Homo sapiens: one gene and its partners. The protein of the gene in region 1 interacts with the protein of each later gene in a pairwise test. Each region holds a gene or a part of one and is shown on either strand. Other genes may lie near its edges. The genes, in order: RHBDD1, NSDHL, GYPC and PLEKHB2.

Region 1 (7,906 bases):
TTTAAAAAAATATTAGCAATTTCAGGGCTAACAGCATTTTCTCATCCTTTGATGCATACCTTCAACGAGGTCTCATTTCCTGTAACAGTGTCCCCTTCTCTAGCTGACTGTCCCCATTAACTAACAGAAGATACTTTATTACTCATCCCCTGACCTTTGGATGTTTACCTTGCTGTAAACATCCAAAACAATTTCTACAAGTTGCTCTGTTACAGTGATAAAACTGAAGATGGTGTTTTTTCACGTTAAAGTTTCAACTTTTTTCAAGTGTTTGTTTTTTCTCATTCACAATAATATGAAAGCTTTGACTCCATTTCAGCATTTTATGGTTAAAAAGAAAAGCAGTGCAGTTAGGTAATAAAATTACCTCATTTATAAAAATATTATAAAATGAATGGCATAAAGTTAGGTTTGAGACAACAAATACCTTTTTTCCCTTTGTCCGACACACAACATTTACTGAGCCTCTGTGCCTAAAACAAGGTGGACGTGTTTTATGCGTTATTTCATTTAATTCAATGGCCTGAAGTAGCACATCCTATGACTCCTACTTTACAGAAATTCAAGTGGGGAGGATGTTAATTTGTCTAATGTACACAATCACTAAGTAGCAGAGGCAAGATTCAGAGCAGGGCTTGTCTGACCTAAAACCACAGATAGCGATCTGCCTCTCCGATGAGGAGAACAAAAAAAAATATTTAATGCCTTCGAAAAATAAACATTTCATGATGGGGCAGTGCCAATTTGGTGGCAGAGCTAACGAAATTATTTCCAGAATAATCCATTCAAAGTGACTTATGTTTATCTGAAAACTCTCTCAATATCCAGGAGCCATGGTATAGCCTTGGGAGCAGCGTGCTCTCATCAAAACGACATGTGTAGGCCACGGTTTGGCACTGACCTTCTCAACATTGCAGTGAATGTAGCCTTTAGAGCAGCTGCTTTAAATCCTGAATATTTCTTTCTCCCCCTACAATGGACCCCTGAAAGAGATAAAGTTGTAAGAAAATACTGCATCTAAAAAACACAGCAGGTTGAGGGCACTCCTGTGATCCTTCCTGAAAATGGAGGTATCTAGAGTAGACATGAGATCTTTGCTACCGTGGAGTTGTACGACATATGGGAAACAAAGATAAGGACAGAAACATATTCAGCCTTGGCTTTCGCTTGCAAGTCACTATGTTACAATAATTCTCAACTCTAAAACTAGTGCTTACCTCTGGTCTTTACCAAATTCTGGGTCAAAGAAGGTATAACTAAACTGAAGACGAGGCAGGTGGATTACCTGAGGTCAGGAGTTCGGGACCAGCTTGGCAAACGTGGTGAAACCGTCTCTACTAAAAATACAAAAATTAGCTGGGCGTGGTGGCAGACGCCTGTAATCCCAGCTACCTGGGAAGCTGAGGCAGGAGAATCGTTTGAACCCTGGAGGCAGCGGTTACAGTGATCCAAGATTGCACCATTGCACTCCAGCCTGGGTGGCAGAAAGAGACTGTCTCCAAACAAAGCTGAAGAGATCAGAAGGCCAAAGAATTAAAAACTACTCTTCAACATAAATACTAATGCTATTCTTAAAAATCCTACAACCACAATAGCATTAGTATGCACTGCTTTAACTTTTAACTGAATATCCTGCATCCAACAACCTTGACTACACAGAATTGAGAATCCCGAGGTAAACAAAATACCCTCTAAGCAGCAGTCCCAATATCCATGCGCTACAGCTCATATCTACCCCGCTGAAGAATCCTTCCAGCACAAACTATGTACTTATTTTATGCAGTTCTAATAAGTTACTTAATAACATCTTTGAGGGTTTTCTATGTGTTTTGTGTTAAACATTTTTCTTGCATCTTCATATTCCAGCCCTGTGAGGTAACATGTCCAAGTTTTTCCATCTAGGAATTACTTCAATTCAAATTCCATTATATGTGATTCCACAATGGGTGTTATCACTACGCCATTAATTCTCAAACTTTAGCGTCCAGGTGCATTGGTATCAACTGGAAGGCTTGTTAAAATATATTTCTGATTCAGTAAGTTTGGGATAAGACCCCAAAATGTGCATTTCCAAGAAGTTCCCAAGTGATGCTGATCCTAGCGTCCTGGGATTATTTAGAAACCAATGCACTTCTATTCTTCTTTGAAAGAATACTTGCTTTCCACAGCGACGGCAGGCCTGCAGCAAACCAGAAGCCTTTAAAGTTTATTAGAACTACCTCAAAAAGACACACAACTGTGAGAAATTAGATAAAGCCTTCTAATAAGCAATTTCAAAGAGAAAAAAGAAAAGCCTGGGAGTCACTGAGTGTACTGCAGAGACCCAAACACCTCGATAATTGAATCATAACTAGGCAGGCACTCATTCATTTTGACAGTAACGCTGAGTCTTCAAAAGAGTTTATGCTCAGTTTAGAAAAACAAATAAGGCTGTGATCCGTTTCTTGTAAACGTTTATCCAAAGGTTTTTAGGGGTTGGACAGAAAGGGTTTACTTTGGCGGATTTTTTGTCCTCTAATAAAAGTTATTACTGCGGTGAGGCTTAGACTTGTTCTGAGAAACTGAAAGCTGTCCCGAGAGCACCTGAAACTGCATGCTCTGTTGCTGATGCAACGTCACTTCAAACTTCCTGCTTTCAAAAGGAACCCTTTAAACTCGCTCAGCGCCAACCCCTTCCTCCGAGTGTGGGCACGTCGTTCCCGTGCGGTCCGGCGGAGATGCGGCAACTTCGACAAGACCCCAGGTGGAGTTACCCCAGGAAACGCCCTCCCCGCTCTCGGACTTGCCCCGGACGGGGAGGCTGTGCCTCCAGCCCCGCCATGCCTCCCTCGCCCTAGCCCCCCGGGAGGCGCCGACCTCCGCCCAGCAGCCCCAGCCCGGCCGCCAGCTCCCGCAGCCCGGGGAAACGGCGAGAGATGCCGCTCACAACCAACGACAGCAGCCGGACCAAACAGACGCGGAAACTCACGCTCTCTACGACCCGCCTGCGTCCCCACGTCTTCGCGCGCACGTGCGTCATCACGCACGTTCCCGATCCGGGGCGCCCCGGGTTCCTGGGGCCGGGTGCGGGAGGGGAGGGCCTTAAAGCGGACGGCTCGGCCGCGGCGCATGCTTAGTTGTGCGCGCCCGCGCTCTGCTGTCTGCAGACCGCGTGCGCCGGCAGTGGCTCTAAGGGGGCCGCGAGGGCACAGCGGGGCAGGACCGCGGCAGAGCGCAGTAAGGAGAGTGTGGACCCTCGCCCTGTCCTCTAAGCTCCATGTGAAATGTGGATAATATTCCTTACTGCCATAAATAGCCACTGGCCGCTGACTACGCGTAAGGCAAACAAGCGACCTGCGTTCAAGGGACCCGAAGACTAGGGGAGAAGCAGCGAGCGGGTCGCGGCCGCCTACCCAACGGACGCCTCTGCCCAGGTTCTCTGCCGGGAAGCTTCGTCCTTCCGGGCCCCAGCGCAGCCGGAGGCTGGGGAGCTGCTGCCTGGAAGGGTCAGATACCGCCTGTTAGGCGGAGGGTGGGAAAGACACTCTCCTGCTTCAGGAGCTATCGCAGACAACCGGAGGGCGGCTTATCGCAGAGTCCCAGAGCCAGCCAGCAAGGCAAGGTCGCGGGTGCACCTTTCACTCCCAGAAGCTTGGGTCTGGGACTGCACCACGCAACGTTTGCCCATTTTGAGGGCTTTAGGTGTTTCATATTTCAGTTAATAGAATTTCGATTAATACATAATTTGATACCATTTTAATTGTTTGCTACTCGGGAGCAAGTTTTATGTTTAGCTGTAGGAGTTAGGCTAAGTTAAATGTTGCAATGCTATATATATTTAATAGGATATGAAAAAACTATCTTACAGCCGGGCGCGGTAACTCACGCCTGTAATCCCCGCACTTTGGGAGGTCGAGGCAGGAGGATCGCTTGAGCTCAGGAGTTTGAGACCAGCCTGGACAACATAGTGAGACCTTGTCTCTATTTAAAAAACAACAACAGGCCTGGCGCGGTGGCCCACGCCTGTAATCCCAGCACTTTGGGAGGCTAAGGCGGGCGGATCACCGGAGGTCAGGAATTCAAAACCAGCCTGGCCAACATGGCGAAACCCTGTCTCTACTAAAAATACAAAAATTAGCCAGGCATGGTTGCGGGCGCCTGTAATCCCGGCTACTCGGGAGGCTGAGGCAGGGGAATCCTTGAACCCGGGAGGCAGAGGTTGCAGTGAGATCGCGTCCATGCACTCCAGCCTGGGCGACAGAGCATGACTCTATCTCAAAAAAAAAAAATCTTACTATTTGGTATGGAATTTTCTGATAGCTAGGGTAAAGATGCTCTTTTTCCAAGAAGGAATCCGAGTATCCGAATACAGGTGGTTTAGTGTTACTCTTTGTTTATTGGAAGTTGTAGCAGCTGTGTTTAGATAGTCTGCTAAAACAAAAACTGCCTAAACCAGAAGAGTTTATCTTTTGCCATTGTGTATTAAAACTCTTCATAGAAATATTTATTTTGGAGTTTGAAATTTAAGTGAAAATGTGGCTCATGCATAGGTGTGGGTGTACATATGACTTTCAAGTGACAAAGAAGATTCTTAGCAAATTGTACGTGTTCATTAAGACTCATAAGTTACCTCTTTCCTAGAAAAACAATATACTCCTCCAAAAGCTCAACTGACAATGAGAAACTGCATTTCTGGACATGAAAAGTCAAATGAATGCGGGGAAAAGTAAATTGCCTATAGAGGTATTTTCTGTATTTCCCTAGAGGGGGAAATGTGTAATTTCTCAAAAGGAAGAAGTCCTCATTTATCCTTCTGAACCACAATCATATGAATCCATTCAATTAATATTAATCTTATCTTCTATTCTCCATCACTCTCTACATCTTTCTATAATTGCATCATTTTCTTGTCCGTATAATACATCAAATGCAGAGGTGATTTTAAGGGAGCCACAAATCAAGAAGTCTCAATTCAATAATTTCGTTAAAATGTAAGAAATATATACGGATTAAGAATATTCTTAGGTAATTATGTTCTGTTTCAAATATCAGTGAAAATTTTCATAGACATTTAAGGGGTAAAAGACATTTAACAGATAGAAAAAAATATCTACCTTTTAAAAAATGACCTTCTCTTTTGTCCTACGTGATTTGTTGAGCAGACTGGGTTTTTTAAAAGTTTCTGTTGAAATGAGCATGTTGTAACATGCTCATATCCCATTTCAATTGACAAATATCACTTGGATAATAATTGTATATCTTAAATATGAACATATGAAGCAATCAGCAGCAGCATCCTTTCACTGAGCAAGGCTTAAAAATACCAAAGAATCAGTGCCAGAAGAAATTCTTTAACTTAAAATATACGTAATCACTACATTACCATATAAAACAATGATTTCTAAATGCTGGAAAGTATATATCTTAATCATGAGACGAGGCAGCACTATGCACATTGTGCATAATATGTGAGACATTGAATGGTATAAAATAAATTTTAACTTTTATCTAAGGTTTACAGGAAAAGCAGCAATACCTATGATTAAGCCACCCGACTTAAATGAGTGTTTTTAAGATGTGGTGCTTGCACATAAGCGGAGGAGTGGTGGTAACAACCCTTGTACAGTTCACAAATCCAGGACTGGCAGGAAGGTAGACAAGTGTCATTCTCAGATTTCAGAACCCAGCCTGAAAGTGAGAGGACGTCAGGCAACAATACCATGCAACGACAGCGTGCAACAAATACACAACTGGATTATCTTTTTAAGGGAGAAGCTTGTTTGGGTTTCTAATTGCTTTTAATGAACCAAGTATTGATTACTGTTTTACCCAAAACTGTACCAAAATATGTGTAAAACTGATAAGATAATTTATAGCTTTCTAGTTATGGAAAAGCTTGCAAATTAAATAATTCAAATCTCAATTTAAGAACTGTAAAAATGAGAAATTGGTTCATGTACCATAGTGATAATAATACCAACAATACTTAACAGTAGACTATGCAGACACTAACCATAAGAGATTTGTAGTGGCTATACTAATATCAGATGAAACAGACTTTAAGAAAGAAATTTCTTTTTCTTTTTTCTTTTTTTTGAAGTGCAATGGCACAATCTTGGCTCACTGCAACCTCTGCCTCCCGGGTTCAAGCAATTCTCCTGCCTCAGCTTCCCAAGTAGCTGGGATTACAGGTGCCCGCCACCATGCCTGGCTAATTTTTTGTATTTTTTTAGTAGAGATGGGGTTTCACCATGTCAGCCAGGCTGATCTCAAACTCCTGACCTGATGTGATCCACCTGTCTCGGCCTCCCAAATGGGATTACAGGCCAGCGCGTCTGGCTGACAAGAAATATTTTTAGAGACAGAAATTCCATACTGATAAGAGGGTCAATACATTGAGAAGATATAACAGTTATAAATGTATATGCACCCAGTAACAGAGCCCTAAATTCATGAAGCAAAAATGATTGAATTGAACAGAGAAATATACAAACAACAGTAGTTTGATATTTCAGTATCCTACTCACAATAATGTGTAGAACAACCAGGCAGAAAATCACTAAGTATATAGAAGGCTTGAACAAGACTCTCAACCTAACCAACATGTACAGACCACTGTACTTAATGACAGCTGAATTTATGTTCTTTTTAAAAAGTATACTCTCCAGGATAGCCTTATGTTAGACCATAAATAAGTCTCAGTAAATTTAAAAGAATTGGGATCATACAAAGTACATTCTCCAGTTACAGTGGAATTAAATTAGGGATTGACAATAGAAAGAAATTTGGAAAATCCCCAGATGTTTGGAAATTAGATTACTCATGGGCCAAGGAAGAAGTACTAAAGGAAATTAGAAAGTATTTTGAAATGAATGAAAGTGAAAACATATTGAAGTCATGCACTGCAGCTAAAACAGTGATCAAAAGGGTATTTAGTCCTTTAAACACCAAGAAAAAGAGTCTCAAATCTACACTTCCACCTTGAAAACTAGAAAAAGAGGAGGAACGTAAACCTTTAGCAAAGGGAGGAAATAATGATCATATTGCAAATCAATAAAATAAGTAACAAAAATAGAGAAAATGAAAATCAAAAGTTTGTTTTTTAGAAAAAAAAAAAAACCAGTAAAATTAATGAGCCAACATTAAACTGGCCAAAAAATTAAAAAGACCAAAATTAGGAATCAAAACAGGTACATCACTACCAACCCAAATTAAAAGGATTGTAAGAGACTGTAAATAACGTTGTGCCAATAAATTAGACAATGCAGATGAATTGGACAAATTCCTAGACAGACACAAATTGCCAAAACTGGCTCAATAGAAAATCCAAAAAGACTTTATTTTCTATGGTGGTTGTAAAAAAAAAAAAAAGTATTATAAACTAGGTGGCTTAAGACAACAGAAATTTATTATCTCATGTTCTAGAGACATGAAGCTCGATCAAAGTGTTGGCAGGGCTCTGCTCCCTCTGAAACCTGGAAGAGAGAATTCTTGTCTCTTTCCCACTGCTGGTGTTTTCAGCAATCCTTGGCCTTTCTTGGTGCTCCTTGGTTTTACAACTGCAGCACTTCAGTCTCTGCCTGCATCTCCACATGTGCTGTTCCCTCACGTGCCTGTCTCCTAGAGGCTGAAGTGCCCAGCCTACTCCAGTGTGACCTCATCTTAATGAATTACATCTGCAATGACCCTCTTTTGAAATAACGTATTCTAAGGTACTGGGGGTTAGGGCTTCAACACATCTTTTTGGATGACACAGTTCAACCCATAACAGACATGTAACAAGTACGGAAATTTAATACTTTCCACAAAGAAAATCTTCCCACAAAGAGAAGCCCAGGTCTAGATGGATTCACTGATGTCAATCCATCAAATATTTAAGGAAGAAATTATACCATCATACACAAACTTTCTGAAAATAGAACAGTTC
Region 2 (7,117 bases), on another chromosome or scaffold:
ATCCATGGTCACTAGTGGCTGGTAGCCCATGGCCTTTTTGGCTCTCTCGCAGCTGTAGTAGTGGAATGTGCCAGCCAGTGCGACCCGCATGGGTGTGAAGGTGGGCTGCAGCTGGATGACAGGACTGATCACCATCACCAGCAGGGATAGCAGGAGGGCCAGGTAGTAGGCCACCCAGTAGGGGATGTGGTACTTGGGGGCCTCATAATTGAGGCCTGTCAGGATGCGAGACAGGAATGTCCAGAAAGGGATGGGCTCATCATTGGTGATGTGAAATGCCTGGCGGGAGAACAAGAACAAGAAGTTAGAAACACCACCCCCACCTGCCCAAAGTTGAAGCATCTATTAAGCCCGTGCAGATCGCATTCTCACTGCCTAATTGCTGCAGCTTTCCACGTGGCCTGCCCTCAATTGCACAACTGCTAAGGCATAGAAAGGGCAGACAATGAAAGTTTCATCTATGGGCCAGGATTTTAAATGAAGCATAGATTGCACTTGGAAAGGCACATTTGTTAATTTGATAATTGTTAATCATCATAAAACTCATCTACATATCTTTGGATGCAATGAATTCCTCATATTACATTTCTTGACGGTGTTCTGCTTGTTTTAAATCAAAAGCCACACCCGGGCCAGGCGCGGTGGCTCACGCCTGTCACCCCAGCACTTTGGGACGCAGAGGCGGGCAGATCACCTGAGGTCAGGAGACCAGCCTGGCCAACATGGTGAAACCCCGTCTCTACTAAAAGTACAAAAAATTAGCTGAGCGTGGTGGCATGTGCCTGTAGTCCCAGCTACTCGGGAGGCTCAGGCATGAGAATCGCTTGAACCAGTGAGACGGAGGTTGCAGTGAACCGAGATCACGCCACTGCACTCCAGCCAGGGTGACAGAGTGAGACTGTCTCAAAAAAAAAAAAAGAAAAAAAAAATGCCACACCCACCCTATTCCCAACTTATTTGAAGGTTATCAGTGGGGAAACGGCAGAGGTTCAGGAGAATAAAAGAGGACCAAACAGCAAGGGAGGGAGAGACCTGAGGAATGAGTGGGAGAAAGGGTGAGGAGCAAGCACCCTGCCCAATCTACGTGGGCTCCTGCCACAAGGAGCCATGCCAACAGGTGGGCAGCCAGGTCAGGGGACCATAGATGACCGTGACCTGAATGTCTGTTCAATCCCAGCTCGTCAGCTCTCCAAATTTGGCTGCCCAAGTGATGTGACGCTGCAGTGACACCACATGCTCTATCAGAGGGGCTTGATCTTGGCACAGGGGGTCCTAAGGCAGATCCTCCATGATACAGGATCACAGGAGCAACTTGCCAGCAAATCCAATGGCAAGGAGAAGAAACCCGCAGAAAGGCACCTGTGCAGGGACCGGTGCAGCAGGCCTTACCTTCCCACCCAGTGTCGAGTCTCGGGAGAGCTGCTCTGCCGCCAGGATGTGTCCATGGACCACGTTCTCCACAAAGGTGAAGTCCACCAAGTTCTTCCCATTTCTGCAGGTGCACAAGGGATGATGGAATACGTGCTGGGAGCCCCTGCACGAAGGCCAGGGCCACTCCCAAGTCTTGGCATTTGAGAGACTGTGACCTACAGAATGGCTGCCACCTCACTTGGCAAGGCCGGCCCAGGCACTCATGGATGCCTGTACTGGTTAAAGATGTACACTGGGCCGGGACTCCTGGGTCTTCAGGGTTAGTGGAATCTGAAAGCTGGGGGACCTGCCCACCCATTCCAGCATGGCCAACACTGGTGCTGTCTCTCCTGTCCCGATTTGGGTAGCAGCTTTTCAGCCCCTTCCCAGGAGACACGGGGCCAACGCCTTGCTCTGGTCCTCCGTTTATTGACCAGTCTCCCTGTAATCCTTCAAGGTGACAAGTCAGGGTAGCAGTGAGGCTGAGTGAGAAACAGGAAGGCAAGGCAGAGGGAAAAAGGAAGGAAGAGAGAGAGGAGAAAAGGAGGAAATGAAGGAAGAGAAAGCCTATTTGGGAGAGAGGCACACTGTTGTCCCCTGTGGAGGCCCCTCCACCTGCACTTAACCCGAGGAGAAAAGTAATGCCCCCGCCTGCCTTCCCAGATGCAAGGACAGTCAAGCCCTGGCCTTTGACCCGGGGCCCATTGCTTTCCCTCTGAGTCACGGTTTCTTCAATTTCCAAACAGGGTCACAAATACCTTCCCAGCCTACCTGAGAGGGTACACTGGATTGAACAGTATCCTCCCAAAGCTTCTGTCCACTTGGGCCTTGTGAATGTGACCTTATTTGGAAATAGGGGCTCGGCAGATGCAATTAGTTAAGCTGAGCTCATACTGGGGTAGGGTGGGCTTTAAATCCAGGGAATGATGTCCTTATAAGAGGGAAATTTGGACACAGAAAGCAAGGAACACAGCCATGTGAAAGGGACGCAGAGGCAGGAGTGATGCCTCTCCAAGCACAGAATGCTAAGGATGGCTGGAAGCCAGCAGAAGCTAGGGCAGAGGCCTGGAACAGACGCTCCCTGCGAACCTCCAGAAGACACTAGCCCTGCCAACATCTTAACTGAGGACTTCTGGCCTCCCAAAATGTGACAGAATCCATTTGTTGTTTTAAGCACTTACTTTGTGGCAGGTTGTTATGGCAACTACAAGAAATGAATACAGAGGACAGCGGACAAGGTCACTGCTATCGCCTGAATCTTTGCATCCCCGCAACATTCATATGTTGAAACTTAACCTCCAGTGCAATGGTACTGTGAAGAGGGACCTTTAGGGGGTGATTAGGTCATGGGGGCTCTGCCCTCGGGAATGGGATTAGTGTCCTCATAAAAGAGGCCCAAGGGAGCCTGTTTGCCCCTTCCACCATGTGAGGACATGGTGAAAAGGTGCCACTCATGAGGAACAGGGCCTCAATGGACACCCAGTCTGGGAACGCCTTGATCTGGACTTCCCAGCCTCCAAGCTCTCTGTTGTTTGTTACCCAGTCTTAGGTATTTTGTTACAGCAGCCTGCATGGACCAAGACAGTCACATAAGAAAAGAGCTACAATGCCATGTGGCTCCTGCCAAGTGCTCTCTGAATGCGAGCATGGACCAGGAAGGACTAGGGAAGAGCCGCTGTGGGCTGACTCACCCAATCACGAACTTCATCTTGCCGTTCCTGGCTGCCTCGATGAGGATGGGTACCAACTGCGGGTCCCTTGGGCCGAAAATGCCATGAGGGCGGATGGCTGTGGTTAAGAAATTCTTCTCAGGATCGTTGGCGCCCAGAACTGCCTGGAGGAGAGTGGGAGAAGGGGCACGTCCATTGCAAATTCCTAGGCCCAAGCCAAGAGAGTGCCTCGCTGGGTGAGAAGCACCACTCGTGGGGGACAGACAGATGACACACTCTGCTGGCATGTGGCCACTGAGCAGTGGTCTGCCTTGAGCTGACAACCTACATCAGTGGCTGGTATAATTCTGGGCTACCTCTCTACCCCACCCACCCTCACACCAAAATCTGAAAATGCAGGACAGACAGCTGGGCAAAAACTGGTAAGATCAAATCAGAAGGCCCTGGTTTGCGTTCAAAGGCTAAAATCCACCAACACTGCCAGAAGACATGCCTCGGCAGCAGTTTGTGGAAAACGTCCAAAGGTTCTGGCAAACAAGTTAGCCGTGAGCCTCCAGTGACTTGAACTGCATGTGCCGCCCACGTTTCCACCAGGCCGGGTCTGTTCCAGGCAATTCTGAGTATCACCTCCGAGGGGAGGGCTCTGAGAAACCCAAGTGGGCCCAGAAGAGGGTCAGAGAAGGTGAAGGGTCTGAAGACCATGCCTGGGGAGAAACAGGCCAGCAGCTGGGGGGCAAAGGAGGCCGAGACATGTAAAGTCCTCAGAGCAGTGCCTGGTCCAGAGCCAGTGCTCCTGTTGCCACCGCAAGGAAAGGGTGACTTCTGTGTGACTTCATGGACAAACTAGAACTCAAGAGTCTAAAGCACAGTGAAATGGGTTTCGCCTCAAAAGTAACAAAACTTTCCAAAGGATTTGTTTTATCGTGGGTAAAAGTGGTGATCATAAAGGTACCTACCCTGACGGGGCTGCATGCGAATTACACGAGATGGCCCATGTGAGTTGCTTCAGTGCGTGTCTGTATGCTTGGTAAGTACGGTTCCTGCTGTCATGTCACCTCGGGTTTCTTCTACTCTATGGTAGCAAAGTGCTGGTCTATGTTTTGGCCCCAGTGATCTTAAGCAACTCAACAATGGAAAAGCTGCCTCTCAACAGATTCCCAGAGCTGGCCCTCCTCTTCCCGCCAGGACTCTGGTCCCCACAGCGATGGAGGAAATGACTAAATAAACCCTCAAATGGCTTCCACCAAGGCTCATCTCTACTACTAAAGGGAAGAGAGGTGAAGGAGTCCTAGCTCCCCATCACATTTGGTTTATGATCAGTAGGAAGGTTATAAAGCCAACAGTGGATGTCAACCTCGGCTGAAAGGAGGCTTCCGGTGAGTTACTGCTGGAGTCATCTGCAGGCTTTGCTTATTTCCAGTTGAGAACCCAAAAGTTGATATAAGCGAGACACTGATGGTCTGGGCCAAGGCCATCATTTGAAGCTCCTGAGCCTAGATGGGCTCAGCTCTGGTGGCAATCAGTATCAGGCATATTGGGTTGAGAATACACAGGGTCTCCATGGTGACTGAACTGCCTGCAAGGCGCAGGGAGGCTTTAGTACTCCTTGGGCCAAGTTCGAGCACATGAGTGCTCCAAGGAGCAAGACAGCATAGTCTGGAGCCAGGACTGTGGCTTGCCAAAGTTCAAGCCTCCACCCCTGGTCTGGGTGGCCCTTGTGTCTCCCTGTGGACCAGTTCTGCCAGGACTTTCTGAGCTGAAGCAACAGCAGACAGGCTGGGCATGGTGGCTCACGCCTGTAATCCCAGCACTTTGAGAGGCCAAGGCGGGCAGATCATGAGGTCAGGAGTTCGAGACCATCCGACCAACACGGTGAAACCCCGTCTCTACTAAAAATACAAAAATTAGCCGGGCATGGTGGCACGCGCCTGTAATCCCAGCTACTCAGGAGGCTGAGGCAGGAGAATCGCTTGAACCTGGGAGGTGGAGGTTGCAGTGAGCCGAGATCGTGCCACTGCACTCCAGCCTGGGCAACAGAGTGAGAATCCATCTCAAAAAAGAAAAAAAAAAAAAATACGGCAAACAGCCAGGAGGCAGCTGGCTCTCAGGTAGCCAGGTCAGTGTTCAGCTCCAGTACAGCATGTACCGGCTTTGCGAGAAAACCTCAGTGGGTGTGATACACTGCACACACCTGGGAGGGGTATACTCACAGCTACCCAGCTAAGACGAGCTATCCCAGGCTCAGGAGCACTCCTGGCCTGCAGCTTAGGATGGCCTCAGGGTGACAATCCCCATCTGCAGCTAGCAGTTGTCAGGGGCCCCACAGCCCCAGCAGCCTGAAGGCTTGGTAGCGACCGTGGCTGAATCCAACCATACTAAAATCAGGTGCCCTTTGATGAAGCTGTTTTGCCAAGTGGAAAAGTACTTTTTCCTTAAAATAAAGCAAGATCCTTCCGTTGTTTGTTTTTCTAAGTAAGGGAGGGGGTGAGAGTGCCACTAGGAAGGTGCCTCCAGCCTGATTCCTGTCTGCACGCTTGCAACTGCTGTAAATTCCCATAGCAGGCGAGGAAGCTCCCATGGCATTGAGGGTGGGCTGTAAGCTCTGTAGACAGACTGCCTGGGGTCAGCCACCTCCTAGCTGCACAGTTTTAGAAAGGTTCTGAGCCTCTCTGTGCATCTGTGCACCACAGTCTTCATCTATAATCTGGTGATGATGCGATAATTGTGACCTTTAAACAAGGAAAATACTCCTGGAAAACACTCAGAACAGTGTCTGGCCACATAAAGCTGTTCTCATAGTAACTTTTTTTTTTTTGGGAGACAGCGTCTCTCTCTCTCTATCCCCCAGGCTGGAGTGCAATGGCACAATCTCGGCTCACTGCAACCTCCGCCTCCCAGGTTCAAGCAATTCTCATACCTCAGCCTCCCAAGTGGCTAGGATTACAGGCGCCTGCCACCATGCTGGGCTAATTTTTGTATTTTTAGTAGAGATGGGGTTTCGCCATGTTGGCCAGGCTGGTCTCGAACTCCTGACCTCAGGTGATCCACCCACCTCGGCCTCCCAAAGTGCTGGGATTATAAGCGTGAGCCACCGTGCCCGGCCTCTCACAGTATTTTTAAATTTAATTTCACCCACAAATTTTACATCTCAAATCAGGTACGTAGGCCTCAGAATACAAACTTCATAAGTTCATAAACATTTTTCTTAGGATTCTAAACCCTTCAGTCTGCTCACTCAACCAGTTCCAAGGTACATACCCTCTCCTGTAAGATCTTAGTCTCTGTGTAGTAGTCAATGGGTTTCATGGCATAGGGAAGGTCTTCAGTTCCATTCTTGATATCGACGCCCTCAAAGATGACACTGGCACTGCTGGTTAAAATGAGTTTCTGACAGAGGAAGGTCAGAAAAAATAAAAGTCACAAATTATCACAATTCAAACAGTGCATGATCCTGTATGAAAGAGAATCAGGGGCATCCCTTTGTTGCCCTCGCATTCGAGGCACTGAAGAAATTATTTGCTGCAATGCCTTTGCTTTTCATGCCTTCTTAAAATAATCCAAAGATCACCATCTTTTGCAGCTATGTGGATTCCAGACACACTATGTATTACATTCTAACCAAGAATCAAGAGATCTTGGTTTCAAAACAAGGGATAACACATTTTTTCTATCCCATCACACCTGAGAGATAGAATAGACTTGCATTCATGGTATCTCACTATGACAGCGATTCTCTGTTGTAAGTGAAGGGCAGCCCGCAAACTTCTAGGAAGATGTCTGAAAAAGATCACTGGCTATTCTGATAGTGACCTGGCCATGTGAACACACATAGGAATACACACACCACACGACCTCTTAAGAAATGCTATTCTAAAGGAAGATATTCTCTTATGAGGGTCCCCAGCGTCCAGCCTGCTGGTTAAGAGAAGCTCATCCAACACTGAACACCATTAGCATGAATCATATCGTTCCCATTCTTATTCAACATTGTATGAGAAGCTCTAGCCAGAGTGGTAGGGTAAGATAAACACGAATTT
Region 3 (7,117 bases), about 100 Mb from region 1:
ACTGCTGCCTCTCCAGCTCCTGAGTTCCTGTGAGTCAAAAGCCCTGAGAAAGGCCAATAAATACATACATAGATACGTACGATGTATGCATGTATATATATATTTACCCAGGGCTAGACTCCTCCATTCCACATTCAAAACCACCTCTGAGGGAGAGAAAAAATGGCCACAGCCACCACTGCCCAAGTCCTTAGGTCAGTTCTCCCCTGGATGTTTTCACCAAGGCCCCCCACCCTGGCTGCTTGAAGGGCTCTGTGATGAGAGCTCACCTGCAATGACGACAATGTCCATTATGGTGGGGGTGGAGGTCTCCATTCTGCCATCCGGCCATCCAGACATCCCTGGATCAGGCTCTGTGAACAGAGGACAAGAATCTGAGGTCAGAGAGGAAGATTCTCCATGCCTAGCAGCACCTTGGCCCAAGCTGCATCCTTTGCTCAGGTGTGAGCAGCTCTGAGAATGGGTCCAAGTGGAAAGGAGCAGTGCGGCGCACCCACTGCTCCTAGCAGGGATGCACAGACCAGGAACCAGGTTCTGCTTGGTCACTGACTGGGATGGAACTGTTTGAACCTGAACCACCAGGTCACTCCAGGCCCATTTGAGTTATCTGCCTAATGCCTGCACTGAGAGTGGTGCTGCACGTGGTAGATGCTCAACAGATATCTGTGCTGTGTATGAAGGCAGGGACTCTTGTTGTGTTTAAGAAAGAATGTTTGTGGAGTGTCTGATGCTCACACCAGGTGTCTCAGTCCATTTTGTGTTGCTATAGCTGAATACTTGGGTAATTTATAAAGAAGAGAGGTTTATTTGGCTCACAGTTCTAGTGGCTGGGAAGTCCAAATTGGGCAGCTGCATCTGGTGAGGGCCTCATACTACTCCCACTCATGGCAAAAAGCAGAAGGGGATCTGACATTCGCAAAGAGACCACAAGGTGATATAGAAAGCAAGAGAGTTTAGAAAGCTGAATTTGCTTTTATAACAACCTGCTCTCCAGTGACTAATCCAGTCTCACGACAGCTAGAACTCCCTCCCTCCCTCAAGGGGGTATTAATGTATGCATGAGGGATCTGCCCCTGTGACTCAAATATCTCCCACTAGGTCCCACCTCCCATCACTGCCACCTTGGGAATCAGATTTCAACATGAGCTTTTGCAGGGTCAAACCACATCCAAACCATAGCACCAGGTGTTGCTTTAACTGCCTTCTATCTACTCTATCATGCAGTCTTCACATCCATCCTATGAGGTGCCTGGTGTTAATGGCCCATCTCACAGGAAGAACACCAAGGTTCAGAGACGTGATGTGCCCTTGATCACACAGCTCATCCGATATCAGGTCAGGACTTGGCCAGTGCTCTTGCCTCTGGAGTGCACTTTCTCTCTTGGAGAAGCCCTTCCCAGGGCTCCTGTCTGAGGAGTCATTCCTGAAGCCCTCCCATAGGTCTTTACATTGACTCTGCTGTGGGAAGGACCACTCTATGACACTATCCAAGTTACTGAGTGTGTTTTTTCACAGCTTAATGACCTGGCCAAAGAGGGTAGGATGTCTAGGACATTGGGGACCGGGATGTTTCCTAGAGCTGCTGCACAGAATGCCTTCTCTCCTCTGGGAGATGATTGTGAAGAAGGATTTATTGGATCACAGAAATATCAGTGTTAACATAGGAAATCCCACGTTCCCATTACAATGGCTCTACATAATAAAACAGAGAAGGATGCTTCATAATAGTCATTTCCACTCAGATAATCACTTTAATTATAGTGCTATGAGGTCATTCTCCCCAGTGCAGCTGCCAGATGCCTCTTTCTTATAAGTAACTGCCTGCTGGAGTCAGGAGTCATAATGGGTGAGGGGAAAACAGACTCCCAGCTAGGGGTCCACAGCAGGACACAGATGGGCCAAGCTAGGGGTGTCTGGGGCCACCAAGGAGCTTGGAGGTGGGGAAGAAGATAATACAAGGCACTGAGGCAGCCCAGGGACCCAGTGAACACTGGCTCAGGATCTGGGTCTCGGGAGCCAGGAACCAGGCAGGGTATAGGATCCAGCATTCACGGTGTTTCTCAGTAGCAAGACCTGAAGCAAGGGCCGTAGCAAGTTCAAGTGGGTGCTAGACTTTATTATATAGAGTGAACAAGTGCAGCCTCCAGTTTAGTATCTAGCACATAGTAGGTACTCAATAAATATTCACTGAATGCATGAGTAAATGCATGCATATATAAATGAATGGATTTAGTGGTGGGGTTCTAGACTTTTCCAATCAACAAGCACCTCAAAGTTCAGAAAGAAAGAATAACACCTTGCTTAAGTAGGCATGGATGGTTATAGAAGCTCAAATACCCAGAACTGCCCTCAGAAATTTTCCAGGTGAAGACAGCATTTATTAGGACAGTTTGTCCAACACAATCAGCGTTAGAAGAGACTGTTATTTCCTCTTCCTTTAAAACAACTAACAATCGCTTACTAGGTGCCAGGTGCAGGTCTCAACATTTAAAGCAATTTAACATGGTCCTTGCAACAGTTGCAAGAACACTGCTTGGAGATTATTCATTCTAAAACCAGGGAAGTCCCAGAAAACAGGGCAGAGCTGGTTGCTGTATGTACACTATACAGGGGGAAAAATGAGGCTATTAACTGTGCTTGGGGCAGGTTGTGTGGTTTGTGTTTTTCAATGGCCCGATGACTGCTCCTCAGCCTACCCTGCTCCCATTCCCTCCTGGCGATTGAGGACTGGGGTGAGTCTGCAGGAGGAGCAGGACTTGGCCACACAAAGGACTGAAGTGGGAGAGGGTAACGCAGAGAATGCCAAGGTGTTGGCTGTGCGAGGGGCAGTCACCCCTCACTTCTGCTGGGACTCCAGAGGGGTGGGGAAGTACAGTGTAAGGCTGCTCAGGAGGGGTCAGATCACTCAGGACCTTGAGAGTGAGGGGGCAGCAGTCTCATGGGGTGGGGGTGTTTTGAGTTTGGGCATTTACTTTGAAGCTGCAGAGCAAGCCTCTGTCTTTTCTTAGAATGCAGGTTTATTTGGAGGCCTTGGGGAGGGACTGCTGAAGAATATGGAAAGTCTGAAACTGCTCCCAAGTCCCACCTTTATAGAACAATTTCCTAAACTTCCTACTGCCTTCAGGGGAACACTTGTATCTGCATAATGTTAATAATATCACCTAGGAAGAATAAAAGCTCAGTGGTGCAATGAGTTGGAGAATGCCAGGTTACACAGAGTCCAACAGGTGTCTTTGATTGCTTGCTTCTGCTGCTTTTTCTTTCTTTTCAAATTGTAGATGTTTCCTGAGTTATTAATAAGCTGCTGAGAAGTGTGGATCTCAAAGAAGGTCGCAGAGCACACAGCACCTCCCAAACTTGGTTGTTCTTCAAACACAGTTTGCAGTCACAGCCATGACCCATGGGGAGCCCGTTGCTCAGGGTTCAAAGCAAGGCAAAGGCAGGCTCAAGTTTCCTTGAGGATGGAGGGTTGGGGGTCATGGACCCAGGGAAGAAAATAATGTGGGATGAGGGAGACGGTGGAGAAGTCTAAGTAGCCTGGTCAGTCTACCCTCATCTCACCTCCACCCTCAACCTCCCTCACCAAAACTGCTGCCTCTCCAGCTCCTGAGTTCCTGTGAGTCAACAGCCCTGAGAAAGGCCAATAAATATAAATACAGATACATATGACATACCTATGTATATTTATTTACCCAGGGGTAGACTCCTCCATTCCACATTCAAAACCACCTCTGAGGGAGAGAAAAAATGGCCACAGCCACCCCTGTCCAAGTCCTTAGGTCAGTTCTCCCCTGGATGTTTTCACCAAGTCCCCCAACCCTGGCTGCTTAAAGGGCTCTGTGATGAGAGCTCATCTGAAGTCACGGCAGTTTCCATTATGGTGAGGCTCTGTGATGAGAACTCACCTGCAATGGTGGTAGTATGCATTGTGGTGGAGGCAGAGGCCATCCCCGGATCAGGCTCTGTGAACAGAGGACAAGAATCTGAGGTCAGAGAGGAAGACTCTCCATGCCTAGCAGCACCTTGGCCCAAGCTGCATCCTTTGCTCAGGTGTGAGCAGCTCTGAGAATGGGTTCAAGTGGACAGAGACAGTGTGGTGCACCCACCGACTCCTAGCAGGGGTGCACAGACCAGGAACCAGGTTCTGCTTGGTCACTGACTGGGATGGAACTGTTTGAACCTGAACCACCAGGTCACTCCAGGCCCATTTAAGTTCTCTGCAGTATGCCTCCACTGAGAGTGGTGCCTGCATGTGGTAGATGCTCAACAGATATCTGTGCTGTGTATGAAGGCAGGGACTCTTGTTGTGTTTAAGAAAGAATGTTTGTGGAGTGTCTGATGCTCACACCAGGTGTCTCAGTCCAATTTGAGTTGCTATAGCTGAATACTTGGGTAATTTGTAAAGAAGAGAGGTTTGTTTGGCTCACAGTTCTAGTGGCTGGGAAGTCCAAATTGGGCAGCTGCATCTGGTGAGGGCCTCATACTGCTCCCACTCATGGCAAAAAGCAGAAGGGGATCTGACATTCGCAAAGAGACCACAAGGTGATATAGAAAGCAAGAGAGTTTAGAAAGCTGAATTTGCTTTTATAACAACCTGCTCTCCAGTGACTAATCCAGTCTCACGACAGCTAGAACTCCCTCCCTCCCTCAAGGGGGTATTAATGTATGCATGAGGGATCTGCCCCTGTGACTCAACTATCCCCCACTAGGTCCCACCTCCCATCACTGCCACCTTGGGAACCAAATTTCAACATGAGCTTTTGCAGGGTCAAACCACATCCAAACCATAGCACCAGGTGTTGCTTTAACTGCCTTCTATCTACTCTATCATGCAGTCTTCACATCCATCCTATGAGGTGCCTGGTGTTATTGGCCCATCTCACAGGAAGAACACCAAGGCTCAGAGACGTGATGTGCCCATGATCACACAGCTCATCCGGTATCAGGTCAGGACTTGGCCAGTGCTCTTGCCTCTGGAGTGCACTTTCTCTCTTGGAGAAGCCCTTCCCAGGGCTCCTGTCTGAGGAGTCATTCCTGAAGCCCTCCCATAGGTCTTTACATTGACTCTGCTGTGGGAAGGACCACTCTATGACATTATCCAAGTTACTGAGTGTGTTTTTTCACAGCTTAATGGCCTGGCCAAAGAGGGTAGGATGTCTAGGACATTGGGGACCTGATGTTTCCTAGAGCTGCTGCACAGAATGCCTTCTTTCCTCTGGGAGATGATTGTGAAGAAGGATTTATTGGATCACAGAAATATCAGCATTAACATAGGAAATCCCGTATTCCCATTACAATGGCTCTACATAATAAAACAGAGAAGGATGCTTCATAATAGTCATTTCCACTCAGATGATCACTTTAATTATAGTGCTATGAGGTCATTCTCCCCAGTGCAGCTGCCAGATGCCTCTTTCTTATAAGTAACTGCCTGCTGGAGTCAGGAGTCATAGTGGGTGAGGGGAAAACAGACTCCCAGCTAGGGGTCCACAGCAGGAAGCAGGTGGGCCAAGCTAGTGGTGTCTGGGGCCACCAAGGAGCTTGGAGGTGGGGAAGAAGATAATACAAGGCACTGAGGCCGCCAAGAGACCCAGTGAACTCTGGGTCTGGAGTCAGCACCTTGGGAACCAGGAACCAGGCAGGGTAGAGGATCCAGCATTCACAGTGCTTCTCAGTAGCAAGACCTGAAGCAGGAGCCATAGCAAGTTCAAGTGGGTGCTAGACTTTATTACAGTGAACAAGTGCAGCCTCCAATTTAGTATCTAGCTCATAGTAGGTACTCAATAAATATTCACTGAATGCATGAGTAAATGCATGCATGTATAAATGAATGGATTTAGTGGTGGAGTTCTAGACTTTTCTAACCACTATGCACCTCAAAGTTCGGAAAGAAAGAATAACATCTTGCTTAAGTAGGCATGGATGGTTATAGAAGCTCAAATACCCAGAACTGCCCTTAGAAATTTTCCAGGTAAAGACCAGCATTTCTTATGACAGTTTGTCCAACACAATCAGGGTTAGAAGGGACTGTTATTTTCCCTTCCTTTAAAACAGTTAATAATTTCATACTAAATGCCAGGTGCTGCTCTCAACATTTAATGTATTTTAACTCAGACCTTGCAACATTTCCATTCGATAGGAGTTATTATTAGCCCCATTTTCCAGATTTGGCAGCTGCGTCCCAGAAAAGTGTTATTTTCCCCGGCTTGTACCTTGAGAGTCAGAAGTCAATCATTTGAAGCCCTGGCAGCCTTGAGTCAGTGTGTTTAGCCTTACAGGGCACTGCAAAGTGTAGAGCCTTGGTAAGCTGGTTTCCAGGTGAGATATTTGGCTTGAACAACTTGGGGTGCATTTCTTGGCTTCTGGTTAGGGACCTTGTACTCAAATCTGTATACTGGGAGACTACACACACTTCCAGCAGGGCAGCCAGGCTGGGAGGGGAGGTAGGACCTGAGAGCTTCGGGGCCTCATTGGGAGACCATTGGGATTGCCAGCTGGGCCTCCCAATGTGGGCTCCCTCCAAGCTCATGCCCTCTGAGGAGCGTGGTGGGCAGGAAAGTTCCCTCAGCTGGAACTACTCTCTCCATGCCCCCCACCCCACCAAGTGTGTGGAGCTGAATTTACACATGTTTCACAATGTGACAGACTCCAGGGGAGTGACATTTCAGCCCAACCAGAGCTGCCCTATATTGATAGATCAGAATCAGCATAGAGAGGAAGCTCAAGGCTGTCTGGGAAGGTGTGGATGCTGTGAGACAGCAATTCTCAAAGCATAGTCTCTGGATACACAGCATCCTCTGGGAGCCTGTTAGAAATAGAAATTCTCAGGCCCCAGCCCAGACCTACTGAAGAAAAACACTAGGACTGGGACCCAGTAATTACTATAGTAGATTCTGATTCATGCTGTAGGCTGGGAAGTGCTGGTGTAAAGAGGGCTTCCAGAAGCGGTGACATCAGGATTAGTCCTTTAAGGGCAAATAGGAGTTTGCTGCACAAAGCCTATAAGCATTCCAGGCAGAGAGCTCAGCATCTAAGGCAGCTCTCCCCACTTCTCAGCTTTCTCCCCAGTGTCTGCTTGCCATCCACGGCTCCAAGGCTCCGGAAGCCTCTGGAGATG
Region 4 (7,117 bases), about 96 Mb from region 1:
TTGCAATGAGCCGAGATGACGCCACTGCACTCCAGCATGGGCAACAGAGTGAGACTCCGTCTCTAAATAAATAAATAAATAAATAAATAAATAAATAAAACAAAAAAGTCATATATCCAAAGATGCTGGAGAAGTTATTGGACACACACTGCCAGAGGGATCTGGTTGGGAAAAATAGTGTCCGTTTTCTCACAGCCATCCCAAGAGTGTGACTGCACGGGCCACTGCTGTTTGTGGAAATCAAATTCTCATATGCACACGGCACAGGGAACAACAAGGCGTTTTAACATCAGATGTGGAGACCTACTACCTGCACGCTCCTGAGTAAATTATTTAACTTCTGAGCCTCGGTCCCTCCAGTGGAACTTGGATAATACCTCCCTTACAGAGTCACTAAGAATTCAGTGAGTTGTCTCTAATGTGACAATATACTAGCATTTGGTAGGTCCTCAATAAATGGCATTCTTATGATCCAGGACAGCAGAAAAAGCTGAGAGTATGTTACTACAAAGTAATTTTTTAAAGACAACAGAAGTCACAATGAAACATGCTTTAAGGTTAATGCTTTAATGTATTGACATTTTCACTTACAAATGTACAATTTGCGTATGTAGGAAAAAATCAGTTCTCTAGACACAACAGAATACTACTAGAGACGGGAAAGCAATCACAAAAAGATCAACTCTGGGGAGAAAGTGGAACTGCATTCCATGCCTTGTATCTACATACACTAGGGAAGGAAAAAGAAATATTACACAGGATCAAAACTTGTGGAAAATACACTTGGGTCATTTTGTCTCAACTGCAGGACCTTCTTATGATCCAGATGGCTACCTTAAGTCCTGGATAGCCTAAAATGGGCAAAGTCTGGCCTTGTTCACAAATGATGATCCAAAACATTAACCACAGTTCTCCTTCTCTTTAGTATCCAAGACCCTGAAGTTGACTCAAGGAATGAAAAGAACAATCAGATCAGCATGTATATAATATCATTGGCCAACTTCTTCAAGGTATGGATTATTTAAAAGTACACATGGAAGTAAAATGCTTACTCAAACCTGAATAAGAAGTTTCTTGTAACTCAAGCACTTCTTGACTCACACTAAGTGTAGCACTGTAAACAAAAGACATCGTTGAGAAACTGAGGCTATCAAAACATTGGCATCTATGGGAGTTGTGGCCAAGGAAATAAAATACCTGAGCAACCTTATACCCAGTATGCATTTCATACCAGGATCAAGTCACTAATGACAGCCAAGTTCCAGGCTTATCTATGGCTGCCTAATGAGACTGGCCCCACTAGGATGGGGACTGGGGAGGGGACACACATGAGTGCCCAAGCTTCAGTCTACACCTCCCCCCTTCAGCCAGAAGCAGCCAGGGGAGCACAGGGACATCTGCTTCAAGAGCATTTTGGCAGCAAAAATCAATACTCTGTGGTTCCTGGAATTCCCACCCAGTAATTCCAAGTTCAAAATTACCACCAGTGCAACATGAAAAACTGTTAATAGTTTTTAAGTAAAGTGTACATACAGCTTTAATAACGATTATAATCTGAAGAAAGCCATTCTTCTTATACAGGATGGAAAATCCTCAAAGCAACATTTTAAACCATGGACACTAGAGTTGTCATACATCTATTCAGAGATGAGAGATAAACAGACATCCTTCCATGTGGAAACAGACACTCCCATGTCAACAAGTCCCCTAGGATCAGAGAGAAAAGCAGACCCGTGGTCATCACTAGGTGTCTCTGGTGTCTCGCTAAAGATGGAGTCCTATGTAGGTTGGCCTAAGTTGGCCTCAGAGGGAGGTGGCTGAGCAGCAAAGCAAGACAGCATGTGTGTAACCAGCCAGGCAAAATAACAAGTCTGTGCTACCTGGAGTGTATTTTCAGGAAAACAGGACCATATGGAGTGTGGGGCAGGGACATTCGCTGTGCTAAACTGCCACTGTAAAAGCACACTGTTGAAAGCATGCAGGACAGAAAACTGCAATAATTCAGAGCTTGAAAACAAGAAATAACAGAAATATGAATATTTCAAATACACACTTCATATACTGAAAATAAGAGCATTTGAAGAAAGGCTGGAATGGGTTTTCCAAAGACTCACACATTTTGGGGTTCCAAATTCAATGTTCTAAGCTTCTCTATCACAAAGAGATCAAGAACAAAAGCAAAGCTGGGGGTCCTGGCCAGGCTGAGTGGTACCTTGAGCCGGTCCCTGTGTCCTGAGGGTCCCTGGGCCCCATATCCCATCCATAACCCAAGTCTGCTCAGCTACAGTCTGCCCTGGTGCTCAGTGAACAGCCACAGAGTCCCACTTCTGCACAGGATGGGCCTTCAGAGTGATGAGAGAGCATCTCCCGCACAGTGCAAACCCCCAAAGGCCAGAAATGGGAACGCTCTAACTAAGGCTCTCCTTCCACTCCCTCACTGTTCCTTTAATATTACTCTCTCAGCAAGTAGAAAAATAGGCTATAAGGAGGCTTAGGCAGACACACACTCAAACAGCCTCTTGGAATAAAGCAAATCTGCCTCCACATACTTGTTTGTATATTGTTCTGGCTTCTCCAGGATTTTTTTTTTTTTTTTGAGACAGAGTCTCACTCTGTCACCCAGGCTGAAGTGCAGTGGCACTATCTTGGCTCACTGCAAGCTCCGCCTCCTGGGTTCACACTATTCTCCTGCCTCAGCCTCCCGAGTAGCTGGGACCACAGGCGCCTGCCACCACGCCCAGCTAATTTTTTGTATTTTTAGTAGAGATGGGGTTTCACCGTGTTAGCCAGGATGGTCTCGATCTCCTGACCTCGTGATCCGCCCGCCTCGGTCTCTCAAAGTGCTGGGATTACAGGCGTGAGCCACCGCGCCCAGCCAGCTTCTCCAAGTTTTAAAGGATTAAAGCCCTCAAACTCTCAGGCTTAAATCAATTCCTAATGTGGGATATGTTCTCCAAGTATGCCTACCAAAGCCATACAAGAATAAAGTGAGCAGCAGCAGCAGCTAGGGTCAGGCAGATTTCTGAAGCATGATTGTTCAAAGGCGGGCTGTGCCCCATCATCCTGAGCCATCGGCCTTGCCAGGGGCCTGTGGAGCCCCAGAGGGCAGGACGGGGGCTCTCACACCATAGCCTCGGGAAGTACCTGGGAGCTTACCAACCCACAACTCCTAAAGTAACATGCAACCAGTTCTGGTCTGTGGTTTGAAAAAGTTAAACGCAAAGAAGCTGTAGCTTTTCTTGCCACAATCACTCAATAGGCATACAACACTATATTACTGGCATAACATGAAAATAAATTAACCCTTAAGCACTACACCTAACTCTAAAAAGAAAATGCCTTTCAAAACAGGTATGCTCAAATAAGGTATTCTGAGAGTTGCACAAGAACAGTCTTGGAATGAGCCAGTGCCCCCGGAGAGTCAACATTTGAACAAAATAGCACAGTTCAAACCCTTCTCTGTGGTACTTATGTGGATTAGTACAATTATGACATCACTACTTTCAAAGGAATGATTAAAACTATTATTAAAAACTTTTGTCACAAACAGAAATGCCCTGCAAATCATATTATTGCACACAGGGTTATCAGAAGCTATGCACATCAAGACCTTGAGGCCCCTAGAAGACCCAAAATAGAGACCCTAAGGCCATGCCCGTGGCTGCTCCTGCCAGCATGCCCAGTGCCAGGTCGCTGTCGTTGTCTCGATAGCGCTCTCGAATGATGACTTGGTTAGCAGGCTGCTGTCCATAAAGTCCTAAAAGAGAAGGAAAATAGCAGATTTCTGAGCAGCGGTTTGTGAAGTTTAACATCACGCAAAGTACCAGTTCTCCTTTCACAAAAGGGATCTGCTGTCTCCTGTCACACTGGCGACCCAGCCCTCCTCCACAACAGGCACATCATGTGGCCGACATCCCTGAAACCGCACACTGGGAGGAAACCAAGATCCTCAGCTCACTAAGGGCCAAAGTCCCTAATCTGCAAAAAGCAGAACCCTAATGAAGCTTTCAGATTCTAGCCTCTGATTTCTACTTCAGCCCTCGACACCATGCTTATTGGGTGGCAGACAAATGGGGAACATGGGAGACACACAGTGCCCAACAAAAGCCCAAAAAGGAAATGCTCACTTAAAGCAAATGAGCTTCTTAGTATGCACGCAAACCAATTTTTAAATTAAGCCTTAAATCTGCACATATAACTTTTTTTTTTTTTTGAGAAGGAGTCTTGCTCTGTCCCCAGGCTGGAGTGCAGTGGCATGATCTCAGCTCACTGCAACTTCCACCGCCCAGGTTCAAGCTATTCTCCCACCTCAGTTTCCTGAGTAACTGGGACTATAGGCGCCCACCACCACGCCTGGCTAATTTTTTGTATTTTTAGTAGAGACGGGGTTTCACCGTGTTAGCCAGGATGGTCTCGATCTCCTGACCTCGTAATCCACCCGCGTCGGCCTCCCAAAGTGCTGAGATTACAGGCATGAGCCACCACGCCCGGCCCGGCCTACTCTTTTTTACTGCATGTCTTTATAGAGAAAAAATAAATATTTATGTTAGAGGTGAAAACTTCAAAAAAACAAACCACAGACAAATTTAGTATTTAATTTGCAAGATTAAAATTTACAACTGGAAATATACTGTTTGCTCTCTTCCATGCTTCACAGCTATAATGCCTAGTAGCTAAGTAGCTTTCAAACTGCTCAGGTATTAATAGCGTTAACTTTCCTCCTTGATCCTCTATTCCTTTAATGGTTCAAAGGCTGGCTGGCCAGGCTTGATGGCTCACACCTGTAATGCCAGCACTTTGGGAGGCTGAGGCAGGTGGATCACTTGAGGCCGGAAGTTTTAGACCAGCCTGGCCAACACAGTGAAACCCTGTCTCTTAAAAAATTACCAAAAAAAAATTAGCCAGGGGTAGTGGCGCATGCCTGTAATCCCATACTGAGGCATGAAAATTGCTTGAACCTGGGAGGCGGGGGCTGCAGTGAGTTGAGATCCTGTCACTGCAATCCAGTCTGGGCAACAGAGTGCAACTCTGTCTCAAACACACAAAAAAAGAAAAGAAAAAAAACTAGTCACTAGTGATGTGCACATGTGGATGAAGAGCAGAAGTGAAACCCGCAGTGGTAACAAAGGTGAACATTTCCAGCCACTTACAGCACTACATACATTGGAATGCTCTTACTCAACTGAGTGCACTTTTATCCCTATTTTGCAGATGGGCAAACTGAGGCACACAGCAGTTAAGGACAGTAAGGGCACACAAACCCAGGCACTCTGGCTACAGTATGCATTTATACCCACTAATGCCTCAAATACAACAGAGGATGATGAATGACAAAACTCAAAAGGCACAGAGTAGTACAATGAAACCATCGTAAATCTAAGGGCTGATCTGGTACAGGTAACAGTACTGGAAGCAAGTGATTATTTTTGCAATGTTTAAATTTCAAAACTAGGGAATTACGGCATTTACTTTCACAGCCCTGACATTTTAAAATGCTCAGTAATGTTAACTCCAACTAGCCAAATGTAACACAATAGAACTTGTGAGCTGACCTAATGAAAAGGTCCCATGGAAAATCTACATTCTGATGCCCCTGCAAGTCATGCTGAGGTCCCCTGGCTGCAGGACCAGGCCACTCTCTTGTGGCTCCTGCTGAGCTCTGCTCCTGCATTGAGCTCAGTCCTTGCCAGAGTCAGCTGTGGATGCTTCCAGGTCACACTTATTATAATTGCCTAATTTAACTAATATTACATAAATGGTCAAAATGTGAATGAGAAAAAGGCAGACACAGTTTCTATGGCAACTAAGATACTACAGGAAAAACTAAATAAAGGAAGGTTACTTTTACAAATTACCATCAAATCAGGGAATTAAGAAAACTATAAAAGATGGGAGGATGGGAGGACTATAGTCCCCAAATCTAGAAGTCTGCTCTTGGACTTACCCCTGGAAACTGCAGTGCAATGACGTGTCATGAGGATGGTCTCTACAAGACAGAAATAGAAGACTCCAACCAAAGGAGCCAACTCAAAGCAAACACCTCAACCCCACATTATAGGAGAGCCGAACGAACACCCACTAGCGGGTTAAATCACAGCACAATGTTTACAATACGTCTACAGTACTCTGTACTTTCTCAATTGGCTGACCAACCACTGGTCCCAATCACACTGAAGAGAGAGCCTTAACCAGCTCTGTGCATGACTAGGAGGGTTCTTGTGGACTAGCTCTAGGCAGTGAGACCCTGGCAGACAGGATGGCATGGAGGTGGCAAAGCACCCATCTGGTTGTCAACACAAGCTGCTGTGTATCGACCACAAACCCATTTGACCCTTCCACAGCAAGCAAGTCTGGGGGCTGCCTGGTCACCACTCTGAGGCAGGCTGGCCATAATGCCTACTGACTCAGCCCCTTATGTGGGCGGCAAGCATTCCGAGTACTGCCTGTGAGAGTGCTACTTCTACTCTACTGACGAGAGCCAAGGGCAAGGATGGACTCATTTCCAGAAGTGCCCTAAACAACCACGTCTGCAATATCTGTGCTCTCTATACAGTAAGAAACAGCGGCAACAGCCCTATTCTGTGGGCTGGAAGCTGAGAAAGAGGCTGGCTCTCATGTGGCAAGGCTAGGGCTTAAAACTCTCCATCCCATGGGATCCCAACAGAAAAATGTGCAAAGGAAAATTATTCATAAAAGGTGATATAAACTAAAGCAACTCGATGATTCCACTTGAGACCTACTGAAGCTATCAAAACTTTTAGAGCACAACAGGCCATCTTTATGGGATCACAGATAAACCACTGCATCAGTAACTGCTAGTGGCATTATAAGTTGGTAAACCATTCTGGGATCAACTTGGCAAAATGCTATCCAGATTTAATGTAATATTAACAGATGAAATGATTAAAAATCTGGGATGTCCCTTAAACTAATCCAGAGGTAGAGAAAGGAGGCTGAGGTAGAGATAAAAGATTAGACATGATATGGTTAACTGCTGAAGCCAGTGATGGACATATGATAGTTCATTATACCATCATCCCTATTTTTTATGTTTGAAAACGTTTACATTTTTAAATCATATCCCAAAAAACCGTCAAAAATGTCTATGCCTTCTGAC

What was found.
Region 2: the proteins of RHBDD1 (region 1) and NSDHL interact in binary tests that used the Homo sapiens proteins (3 or more experiments, as listed by UniProt).
Region 3: the proteins of RHBDD1 (region 1) and GYPC interact in binary tests that used the Homo sapiens proteins (3 or more experiments, as listed by UniProt).
Region 4: the proteins of RHBDD1 (region 1) and PLEKHB2 interact in binary tests that used the Homo sapiens proteins (3 or more experiments, as listed by UniProt).

The regions. Positions count from the first base shown.
Region 1 is NC_000002.12:226,831,150-226,839,055, reverse strand, and holds the start of RHBDD1 (rhomboid-related protein 4), read right to left. Parts: upstream 3,003-7,906; 5' UTR 2,969-3,002; exon of another isoform or gene 984-2,968; 5' UTR 902-983; intron 1-901. UniProt on the Homo sapiens protein: Intramembrane-cleaving serine protease that cleaves single transmembrane or multi-pass membrane proteins in the hydrophobic plane of the membrane, luminal loops and juxtamembrane regions.
Region 2 is NC_000023.11:152,861,946-152,869,062, reverse strand, and holds part of NSDHL (sterol-4-alpha-carboxylate 3-dehydrogenase, decarboxylating), read right to left. Parts: intron 6,468-7,117; coding exon 6,339-6,467; intron 3,245-6,338; coding exon 3,102-3,244; intron 1,493-3,101; coding exon 1,390-1,492; intron 280-1,389; coding exon 1-279. UniProt on the Homo sapiens protein: Catalyzes the NAD(P)(+)-dependent oxidative decarboxylation of the C4 methyl groups of 4-alpha-carboxysterols in post-squalene cholesterol biosynthesis. Also plays a role in the regulation of the endocytic trafficking of EGFR.
Region 3 is NC_000002.12:126,687,100-126,694,216, reverse strand, and holds part of GYPC (glycophorin-C), read right to left. Parts: intron 3,963-7,117; coding exon 3,906-3,962; intron 354-3,905; coding exon 270-353; intron 1-269. UniProt on the Homo sapiens protein: This protein is a minor sialoglycoprotein in human erythrocyte membranes. The blood group Gerbich antigens and receptors for Plasmodium falciparum merozoites are most likely located within the extracellular domain.
Region 4 is NC_000002.12:131,143,277-131,150,393, reverse strand, and holds the end of PLEKHB2 (pleckstrin homology domain-containing family B member 2), read right to left. Parts: intron 5,987-7,117; coding exon of another isoform or gene 5,945-5,986; intron 3,758-5,944; coding exon 3,621-3,757; 3' UTR 549-3,620; downstream 1-548. UniProt on the Homo sapiens protein: Involved in retrograde transport of recycling endosomes.